Linked DNA regions of Homo sapiens. The protein of the gene in region 3 purifies or fractionates together with the protein of the main gene of each other region. This does not show direct contact. Each region holds a gene or a part of one and is shown on either strand. Other genes may lie near its edges.

The links.
Region 1: the proteins of PLVAP (region 3) and ZDHHC6 purify together in Homo sapiens (affinity purification with mass spectrometry; 3 studies listed by BioGRID and IntAct, with this or other methods). This does not show direct contact.
Region 2: the proteins of PLVAP (region 3) and FLT4 purify together in Homo sapiens (affinity purification with mass spectrometry, with the first as the bait; one large-scale study listed by BioGRID). This does not show direct contact.

What each region holds. Positions count from the first base shown.
Region 1 is NC_000010.11:112,436,825-112,440,475, forward strand, and holds part of ZDHHC6 (palmitoyltransferase ZDHHC6), read right to left. Parts: intron 2,829-3,651; exon of another isoform or gene 2,682-2,828; intron 1,566-2,681; coding exon 1,512-1,565; intron 1-1,511. UniProt on the Homo sapiens protein: Endoplasmic reticulum palmitoyl acyltransferase that mediates palmitoylation of proteins such as AMFR, CALX, ITPR1 and TFRC.
Region 2 is NC_000005.10:180,600,941-180,604,686, forward strand, and holds the end of FLT4 (vascular endothelial growth factor receptor 3 isoform 1 precursor), read right to left. Parts: intron 2,451-3,746; coding exon 2,252-2,450; 3' UTR 566-2,251; downstream 1-565. UniProt on the Homo sapiens protein: Tyrosine-protein kinase that acts as a cell-surface receptor for VEGFC and VEGFD, and plays an essential role in adult lymphangiogenesis and in the development of the vascular network and the cardiovascular system during embryonic development.
Region 3 is NC_000019.10:17,353,285-17,356,935, reverse strand, and holds part of PLVAP (plasmalemma vesicle-associated protein), read left to right. Parts: intron 1-3,651. UniProt on the Homo sapiens protein: Endothelial cell-specific membrane protein involved in the formation of the diaphragms that bridge endothelial fenestrae. It is also required for the formation of stomata of caveolae and transendothelial channels.

The DNA.
Region 1 (3,651 bases), on a different chromosome or scaffold from region 3:
CAAGGAGATGTCCTTTATTTTTAACAGTCTGTGTGACAAAATGAGAAGTATACATAAAGCGTGCCCAAGTAGAATGATCATCTCAAGGAAAATAGTTGTTAAGCTGTAAGCTAACAAAAGCTGTAGAGCCAGCTTTTTTAATGTAACACTATTCTTATTTGAAAGAATGAGTAATATAGCAAACTAAGGTTATTCAGACTTCAGGACTTGGTGAACATTTTCTCAAAAACGAACAGTCAGGCAGTCACTTCAAGGGAAATGACTGACAGTATGGGTTAATAGTAAAAAATTAAGGCTTTCAAATGTATACTAGAATTACAAAAAAAAAAACCTTGTATCTACCACTGTGAGCCTGACAGCTTTCCAATACTTAAGGATTTTTTCTCATAAAAATGATATATTGATATACGTGAATGCAATTTTGGGATATTGTATAATGAAAGGTGTTTAACGTTTGCAAAATCTACATAACACAGTAAACTAGTATTTGCCAAATGACCGATGCCTGATGTTACATAAAACCACATACTGGTAAAAGATTAATTCAAAGAGCAAGATAGACTGATGAGTTTTAAAATAAAAAGGTATAAAAATCTTATTGATAAGAAATATCACTTGTCAAGTTTTCAATGTAATACGGAAGAACATCCACTATTATCATGTAAAAGGCCTATTAAAATATTCTATCCTTTTCTACCTACTTATCTGTGTGAGGCTAGATCTTCACATACTTCAATCGAAGCAACATATCTCAACAGACTGAATGCAGAAGTGAGAATCCAACCATCTTCTCTTAAGTCAAAGATACTAAAGAGATTTGTAAAGATATAAAACGATGCTATTCTTCTCCCTATTTTGTAATTTGGAAATTGTGAATATTCCCCTGTGGCAACAATCAGCTTGGTCTGCCAGGCAATTCTTTGGTATACAGGCTTGCTCCCCTTCATGGACGTTATCTGCCCAGACCCTGCAGGTATTTGGGTTTCAACCCCTGCCACAGGAATGGTGAGGCTCTGAGAAGTTTTAAACACAGAGCAGGGTAGTCAGATTTGTGTTTCATGCTAGAATCACAATGGACAGTATGAAGTATTGGACATTGTGAGGTCTGTGACAAGCAAAATGTTAGGAGCTTCATTGAATGTCTAAAACACTGAGAAAAACCTGATGGCAGTTTGGTAGGGTGGAAGCTCCTTTCCAAATGGGCTGCTTTCTCCTCTAGTCTAAGAGACAACAAACAGATGGTTTGACGTGTGGCTTAGGCCTCTGCGACCACTCAGGGTGTATGAGAAGCACCTTTCTGTGGGAGTTACAGAATGAACAAAAATGTTTCCTATATTCACCTTTTATGTGGCATGCAAATGACTTACGGTAGCCATTTGGCAGCCATGTTTTCACTTTTAGGCACTTTTCGTTAATCCGGTCTAATAACAGACTTTATTAATATTCAGGACTTTACCAGTCCTTTATTAATATACTTTTTTAATATTGAAGAAACAATTATTAAAATTTACCTTCTCTTCAATCCATGACTCAATAGAAGTTTTGTTTCTGAGAATTATTTTCATCTGGAAATTAAATGATAGTAAAATTTAATAATGCGACCTTGGTTCCTTTAAGATTATCATATTCATAATTCTCTGAGATAGCTTTTATTACTCCATTCCATAGACAAAGATACCAAGGATAACAGAGGTTAAGTACCACAATTACCATGTCATCCGTCTGACTCCAAAGTCCTTGTTCTTAACTACTGCACCACGGTACCTCTCCGTAACAATGATTACACCCATCCATAATCAAATCTGAATCTAGTATGTTAATCAAACTTTATGTCATAAGTACTATTTTCAGAGCAAGGTTTAATAAAACATTGATATAATCCATTTAATCAGTGCTTACTTATAATTTGCTATTAAAATCTTTTATCACTATTTTTAACTAACTTTAAATTTACGATTAATCTATTTATGAGAAGTAACAGTGACTCATTTCAGTCAACCTCAATATTTCACTTGCCTTAAAAATAATGAATGTATTCAGTCTTTATTCTATTATTTGATTTTCCTAGATATGACTGATTCCACATATATAGGCTTTTATATTATAGGATCTTAGTTTATTTCTAATATGATTCTAAATTAGAGGCATTGGGGAAAATTTTTCAAAGAATTTGGTCCCAGGCTAGTAGACGATAATAAAGTATAAACAAAACCAGATTATTTTAAAACCAAGAGTTCCCTTAAAGTCTGGCTGTGCCTTCAGAGAGACAGTGTAGTATGTTAGAAACAGCCTTGGTGGAGGCTGCAATAAGCCGAGATCGTGCCATTGCACTCCAGCCTGGGCCAACAGAGCCAGGCTCTGTCACAAACAAACAAACAAACAAACAACAATAAAAAAATAAACAGCCTTGGCCCAGGAGTCCTCATCATATTCCAAGGGCCTAGCATAATACCTGGCCCACAGTAGGCCTTCAATGAATGAATGAATGAATTACGTGAATGCAATAAGTCATAAGAATGGTTTTTGGGCCGGGCACAGTGGCTCACACCTGTAATCCCAGCACTTTGGGAGGCTGAGGTGGGTGGATCACAAGGTCAGGAGTTCAAGACCAGCCTGGCCAAGATGGTGAAACCCCGTCTCCACTAAAAACACAAAAATTAACCGGGTGTGGTGGCAGGTACCTGTAATCCCAGCTACTTGGCAGGCTGAGGCAGAGAACTGCTTAAACCCGGAAGGCGGAGGTTGCAGTGAGCTGAGTTCACGCCATTGTTCTCTAGCCTGGGTGACAGAGTGAGACTCCGTCTAAAAAAAAAAAAAAAAAAAAAAAAAAAAAAAAAAAAAAAAAGAATGAAAAAGAATGGTTTTTGGTCCCTTCAGAGCCAGGTCCTCCTCCTCTGTGTTCTCATAGCACTGTGCACATAAATCTATGATGTACATATGGCCCTGTATTAGTTAACTGTTTAATATTAACTGTCAGTTCCTAAGGGCAGCTACCTCTTCATTATCATTTATGCAGCCTTAGAAATTAGCAAAGTGATTCATCAGAGTAGGCTTTAAATAGCATCTTTATCATAGGGCTGTTATGGAGATTAAATGAGCTAATACATGTAAAGTGCCTAAAACAGTGCCTTACACATAATAAGTGCTCAATAAATGTTAGCTATATTATGATTACTATTATTAAATATATACTATTATAAAATAACATTAGTGTTTACCAAGTACATGAATGGGTGACATTGGGTAAGTCACTTAACCTTTTTGAGAATCAATGAATTAATCATCTGTCGGGAAGGGAAAATGTTTACCAAGTACATGAATGGGTGACATTGGGTAAGTCACTTAACCTTTTTGAGAATCAATGAATTAATCACGTGTTGGGAAGGGAAAACAGTAAGACTCCTCTATTGGGGTGGATGTGAAGAGCAAGAGAGACTGTACAGGTGAGAAGAGCTCTCTCAATTCTGAAGTGCTCCAGAACTTACCTAACTTGAAGTTAGCATTTTAAAAACTAAATCAATACCTAGAAATTCTGGCAAAATTAAATCAAAATTATCTGACGAATACAAAGGAGATTAGTTACCTAAATGAAATAAGCAAAAATAATTTCCATTTCATACTGGACACTTAAATACAGGCTTTGTCTCTTTC
Region 2 (3,746 bases), on a different chromosome or scaffold from region 3:
AGGGGCATACTTTGGGCTTGGAGAGCCGCTCAGCCCTGGGCACGGGGGGACACCCTGTTGGTGGACACCTGGGTTGGCACATATGTCAAGGTCAGTGACTAAATTCAGTCAATTATAATGGAAAGCTAAAATATCCAAACCCAGCCTGGGCAATACAGTGAGACCTCATTTCTACAAACCAACCAACCAACCAAAACAAAAAAAAAGCGGCCGGGCGCGGTGGCTCACACCTGTAATTCCAGCACTTTTGGGAGGCTGAGGCCGGGAGTTCGAGCCCAGCCTGGCCAACATGGTGAAACCCCGTCTCTACTAAAAATACAAAAATTAGCTGGGCGTGGTGGCAGGTGCCTGTAATCCCAGCTACTCAGGAGGCTGAGGCAGAAGAATTGCTTGAAGACGGAGGTTCCAGTGAGCCGAGATCGCGCCACTGAACTCCAGCCTGGGGGAAAGAGCAAAACTGTCTCAAAAAAAAAAAAAAAAAAAAAAAAAAGCCCAATGTGGGGGCTGTTCTGTATTCCCATTTAGATTTATTACGGAAGCAAAAACAATAAAAGCAACACTCCCGTCCGCAACACACACAAAGACCGGCATCAGATTTATTATTATCTCTTGTTAAATATTTTCGATCTTTTCTCAGAACATGGTCTAGAAGGGCATAGTAGTTTTTTTCCCGGTACATGCGTGGGTGGGTAGTGAGGAGAAGGGAGCAGAGGTGCGCGCCAGGAGCCAGGCTGGTTCTCTGCAGAGAACAACCTCCAGATCCTCCCAGGGAAGCCTGACACGCCAGTCCCACGTTGGACGACGTGCAGAGGAAGGGGGAGGTCCACGGGGACGACGAAGATGACCTTATACGTGCACTCGGCATATCCTGGAGTAACGCGCAGTGGGGGAGGTGGGGAGGGGAGGGTCGGCCGGGCAAGCCCCTGCCCGCTGCGCGGCGCCTGTCCTGCAAGCGTCTGGTGCGTGGGTTTGGGGGGTCAGGGTGGTGGTCAGTCTCCGTGGTCCTAACGTGGGGATGTGGCTCTTTCTCCTGGTGAGATGGTTGGGCACTGTGAGCTGGGATAGGGGTCCTGAGCAGAATGCCTCCAGCCTTCAGGGGATCTCTCGGCTGCTCCTCTGGGAGGGCGGCATTCTGACCAGCCAGGGTGCTGATGTCAGGCACAGGGCAGGAAAAGGCTGAAGGCAGGTCCCCAGAATGTCCACTGAGTGCTGGGTGGCACAGGGCAATGCTGGGTGGTCCTTTGTGCCAGCCCCGAGCCTTCCTGAGTGGATCCCACAGTGTTCATCTCTCATGAGCTGGTTCACGGCTTGGGAGGGGCCGCAGGTGGCAGATCCGGGCTCTAAAGGGAAGAACCAGACCGGCAGCTCCAGACCCAGGCTCCTCGGAGTCTGGGCCAGGTGGGAGAGCAAGGGCCTTCTCCAGAGGCACTGACTGCTCTGCTGGCCTTGACCTGGGGCGGGGGTCAGAGTCATCTAGACTCAGTACAGCTGTCCCTGGGCGCCTTCCAGGCTGAATTCGGAAAGCAAATTCTTCTCAGCAGCTCTAACAGTCTGTGAAGTTCTGTTGAAAAAGACTTGCAGGATGGCTCTCAACACCCAGGCGCAGGTGTGCGGGCTGCCTCTGTGTTGCCAGCGTATAATACTGTCATACTGGTGGCCACCCCAGGGGCTAGTTGGCTGTTTGGTCAGGCCCAGAAGAGGACCCTGCAAATGCCTTCTTTGAGATGGAAACACAGCCCCTCCCTTCAACTGTGCAGGGGTGGGTGAGGCCAGCCAGCCCTCGTGGGGAGAGTAGCTGTGTGCCTGAGGAGGAAAGGGCGTTTGGGAGACCTCTGCTCTCGTATGCCTTAACCTCCAACACTGTGTGACTCCCAGACCCACAGATTCCTCGTGGGAAAACAGGGACCAGGCCACCACCCAGTGTGATGAAAGGAGGTCGCCAAAGAGACATTCCCATGGAAGTGCTGGCCCCGGGACCAGCACCTGCGGATGCTGAACTAAATGACATCTGAATCTCAGGGGGAGGGGCCGGGGCAGCTGGAGCGTGGCCCTGGCCAGTCGTGGTGACGGAATTCCGGGAGCCTTGGGCCTGGAGTCCTGCTCTTCCTAGCTGGGAAGTCTGCAGAGAGGGAAGAGGACACTCCTGTGCCACCAGAGTTCAACCAGATGAGTTCCCAGCCTGGGCCTCCAGCCCTCTGCCCGCCCTGCCGGGCCTGAACCCCCAAGTGCTGGGGGTCTTGTCCGATGCTGCTTAGTAGCTGTTGTCTGTGAAGAAAGTCACGCGGGCAGACGGGGAGCAGTGGTCCTCCTCGCTTGGCTCCGACAGCTCCCCATACTCGCTGTTGTAAAACACCTGGCCTCCTCGGGCCCCCCGCTCAGGCCGCCGCCGCCTCCCTTGGGAGTCAGGGTGTGCCCTGGTCACAGCCACATTCTGGCCAGGTCCTTTACAGCTGCCAAGACAGGGAAGGTGGTGTTAGTAAGAGAAGAAGGCTGGGTGGCGGGTGGTGCATACTGGTAATCCCAGTACTTGGGAGGCCTAGGCAGGCGGATGGCTTCAGGCCAGGAGTTAGAGTCCAGCCCAGGCAACATGGGGAAACCCCGTCTCTACAAAAAATACAAAAATTAGCCAGGCATGGTGGTGCACGCCTGCGGTCCCAGCTAAGTGAAACAATTGCTTGAGGCCGGGTGCGGTGGCTCATGCCTGTAATCCCAGCACTTTGCTGGGAGACCGAGGCGGGCGGATCACGAGGTCAGGAGATCGAGACCATCCTGGCTAACACGGTGAAACCCCGTCTCTACTAAAAATACAAAACATTAGCCGGGCGTGGTGGCGGGCGCCTGTAGTCCCAGCTACTCGGGAGGCTGAGGCAGGAGAATGGCGTGAACCCGGGAGGCGGAGCTTGCAGTGAGCTGAGATCGCACCACTGCACTCCAGCCTGGGCGACAGAGTGAGACTCCATCTTAAAAAAAAAAAAAATTGCTTGAGCCCAGGAGGTGGAGGTTTCAGTGAGCCAAGATCGTGCCGCTGCACTCCAGCCTGGGTGACAAAGTGAGACCCTGTCTCAAAAACAAACTAACAAAAAACAAGGAGGGACTGGAGCCCTGTCAGGGTCTGATGGGAACCACCAAGGACACAGTGGAGCATGGCATGCGTTCAGACTTCAGAAAACACACACAGACTCGACTCAAACAGCAAAGCGGATCGATCTGATCCAGCACTCACTGGAGCTCTGTCCCTACCTAGCCTGGACCCGAGACTGTGAAGAATGTCCAACTTCATCCCCCAACCCAGTTCTCACTCTGTCTTGCCCATCTCAGTGAACGGCACCACCGTCCCCTCAGCCGCTCAAGCCAAGCACCCTGGGGTTCTCCTTGCTTCCTCCTTCCCCTCACTCTTCAAAGCCAATCCATCCAGAAGTCCTGTCCATTCTAACTCCAGGACACATCCGTGCATCTCCATTCCTGGCCCTCCTGCGGAGCCAGCTGTGTCCTTGCCGGCTCTGTGACATCCTCCCGCGGACTGCTGTGTGCTTCCACCCTGGCCTCCTGGTGGTCCACCCTTCAGAGAGGTCCTTCAAGTTACACTATGTCATTCTCCTCCTGACACGCCCTCCAACGGCTTCCCGTCACTCCACGAAGCAAATCCAGGCCTCTCGCCTTGACCTAGGGGGTGGTTTCTGCCCCTGCCCTCCTCTCTGCCTGCCCTATCATGCACCATCCTCAAGCGCTCACTTTCTTTGCATTTT
Region 3 (3,651 bases):
CCAGGCTGGAGTGCAATGGCCCGATCTCAGCTCACCGCAACCTCCACCTCCTGGGTTCAAGTGATTCTCCTGCCTCAGCCTCCCAAGCAGCTGGGATTACAGGCATGCGCCATCACGCCCGGCTAATTTTGTTTTTTTAGTAGAGACGGGGTTTCACCATGTTGGTCAGGCTGGTCTCGAACTCCCGACCTCAGGTGATCCACCCACCTCAGCCTCCCACAGTGCTGGGATTACAGGCGTGAGCCATCACACCCGACCCACTCTTATTCCTTCTAAGCCTTGATAAAATCTCAGTTTAGTGGGACAAAGTGGCTCACGCCTGTAATCCCAGCACTTTGGGAGGCTGAGGAGGATGAATTGCTTGAGTCTAGGAGTTCAAGTCCAGCCTGGGCAACATAGCAAGTCCTCGTCTCTAAGAGAGAAAAAATAAAATTCTCATTAATATAGTGTTTAGTTTAAAAAAATAAAATAGACAAAGCCTTAGCTGGTATTAACTTGCTCTAACGGCTTCCAGACACTTGCGCATCTCCCGTGTTCCCAAATCGATGGCCGACGCAGGGCCCCACATCAGCTGGGCTTCGGCGTGAGGTCTTGCTCTTATGGAAAAAAAATCTTTCTTTTTCTTTTTAGATGGAGTCTCACTCTGTCGCTGGGCTGGAGTGCAGTGGCGCAATCTCTGCTCACTGAAACCTCTGTCTCCCGGGTTCAAGCGATTCTCATGCCTCAGCCTCCCGAGTAGCTGGGATTACAGGCACGTGCCAGCATGCCCGGTTATTTTTTGTATTTTTTAGTAGAGACAGGGTTTCACCACATTAGCCAGGCTGGTCTCGAACTCCTGACCTCAGGCAGTCCGCCCGCCTTGGCCTCCCAAAGTTCTGGGATTACAGGCATGAGCCATGGTGCCCGGCCTATGGAAAATTTTAAAGTCATTTTCTGTTGGTGATGTGTGCGCCAGCTTTCCTTTACTTGATGAGACTGAGTGTCCCTTCCTGCAGATCACATGAGGCAGAGCAAAAACAAAAACAAACAAAAAAAGAAGTAGAGACTGAGTGTCTTTGGAAATCAATGTAAGTTTCTTTAAAAACGATATAAAGACAGTAATGGCTGGGTATGTTGGCTCACACCTGTAATCCCAGAACTTTGGGAGGCTGAGGCGGGCAGATCATGAGGTTAAGAGTTCAAGACCAGCATGGCCAACATGGTGATACCCTGTCTCTACTAAAAATACAAAAAATTAACTGGACATGGTGGAGTGTGCCTGTAATCCCAGCTACTCGGGAGGCTAAGGCAGGAGAATTGCTTGAACCAGGACCTGGGAGGTGGAGGTTGCAGTGAGCTGAGATTGCACCACTGCACTCCAGCCTGGGCTACAGAGCGAGACACTGTCTCAAAAAAAAAAAAAAAAATTAACCAGGCATGATGGCATGCACCTGTAGTCCCAGCTACTTGGGAGGCTGAGGCAGGAGGACTGCTTGAGCCGAGGAGTTCAAGGCTGCAGTGAGCTATGATCACGCCACTGCACTCCAACCTGGGTGACAGAGGAAGACCCTGCCTCTAAAACGTTTTTTAAATGGCAAATATTAAGTAAATCTTGGTCCAGGAGCTATGTGGCTGAATATGGCAAAAATTGCAATGGGAAGAGCTTTTTTTAAAAAAGATTTTATTATTTATTTTATTATTATTATTATTATTATTATTATTATTATTATTTTGAGATGGAGTCTCACTCTGCCACCCACGCTGGAGTACACTGGTGTGATCTCAGCTCACTGCAACCTCCACCTCCCAGGTTCAAGCAATTCTCCTGCCTCAGCCTCCCGAGTAGCTGGGATTACAGGTGCCCGCCACCAGCCTGGGTGATTTTTTTTGTATTTTTAGTAGAGATGGCGTTTCACCATGTTTACTAGGCTGGTCTTGAACTCCTGATCTCAGGTGATCTGCCCGCCTCAGCCTCCTAAAGTGCGAGGATTACAGGCTGGGCCACCACACCTGGCCAAGATTTTATTTTTATTTTTAATTTTAATTTTTTTTTTTTTTTGAGACGGAGTCTTGCTCTGTCACCCAGGCTGGAGTGCAGTGGCACGATCTCGGCTCACTGCAAGCTCTGCCTCCCGGGTTCACGCCATTCTCCTGCCTCAGCCTCCTGAGTAGCTGGGACTACAGGTGGCCACCACCACGCCCGGTTAATTTTTTGTATTTTTAGTAGAGGCGGGGTTTCACTGTGTTAGCCAGGATGGTCTCGATCTCCTCATCTCGTGATCCGCCTGCCTCGGCCTCCCAAAGTGCTGGGATTACAGGTGTGAGTCACAGCGCCCGGCCCTTTTTTTTTTTTTTTTTTTGAGACAGAGTCTCGCTCTGTTTTCCAGGCTGGAGTGCAATGGTGCCATCTCGGCTCACTGTAACCTCTGCCTCCCAGGTTCAAGTGATTCTCCTACTTCAGCCTCCCGAGTAGCTGGGATTAAAGGCATGCACCACCACACCCGGCTAATTTTTGTATTTTTAGTAGAGACGGCGTTTCGCCATGTTGGCCAGGCTGGTCTTAAACTCCTGACCTCAGGTGATCCGCCCACCTCCGTCTCCCAAAGTGCTAGGATTACAGGTATGAGCCACTGCGCCTGGCATTATTTTCTTAATCTTTTTTATTTTTTGAGAGAGTCTTGCTGTGTTGCCCAGGCTGCAGTGCAGTGGTGTGATCTTGGCTCACTGCAACTCCCACCTCCTGGGTTCAAGCAATTCTCATGCCTCAGCCTCCCAAGTAGCTGGGATTACAGACATGCATCACCAGGCCCGGCTAACTTTTGTATTTATAGTAGAAATGAGTTTTCACCACATTGGCCAGGCTGGTTTTGAACTCCTAGCCTCAAATGATCCCTCCACCTCGGCCTCCCAAAGTGCTGGGATTACAGGCATGAGCCACCGCGCCCGGCCGTATGGGCTTAAGATGGGAGTCCAGCCCTGGCTCTGAGCTGGACACGTGGTTAATGTTGTTCAAGTTCACTGTTAACGCCTCTGATGATTCGTGTGTCCATTCGAGCCGTATTTATTGAGCAGCTGCTGGTAACCGGGCATGGTGCTGGGTGCTGGGAACAAGGCACAGAAACCCGCTGCCCTCATGGGGCTCACAGTCTAGTGGGAGAGATGGATAATAAATTAGATGAACGGGTCACTCAAGGGTCCTTTGGTGATGGGCGAGACAGAGAAAGGGGCAGGAAGCGTAAGAAGGTTGGAACTTTCTACCAGAGACAGGGCAGGCTACACCGAGGAGGTGATATTGAAGCAGAGACCCAGAGGAGGTGAGGGAGGAGCCATGGGGGGATCCCAGGAAGGGTGCACCAGACAGAGGACACAGCCAGGGCAAAGGCCCCAAGGTGGGACCGTGCCTTGTGTGTTTGAGGGAAGAGGCCGGTGTGGCTGGAGTGGAGTGATGGAGGGGAACGGGAGGAGGAGGTGAGGGCAGGGAAGTGATGGGAGCTGATCAAGCCCTGCCTGTGGCTGCTGTGAGGACCTGAGCAGACGGGGGATGTGCATGACCCAGTTCAAGCATCCACAAGTTCCTCTGGTCACTGTTGGGGAACAGACTACGGGACAAAGAGCTGGGGACCAGGACAGAGGGATGTGCATTGACCCAGTTCAAGCAAAGATGGAGCCTTG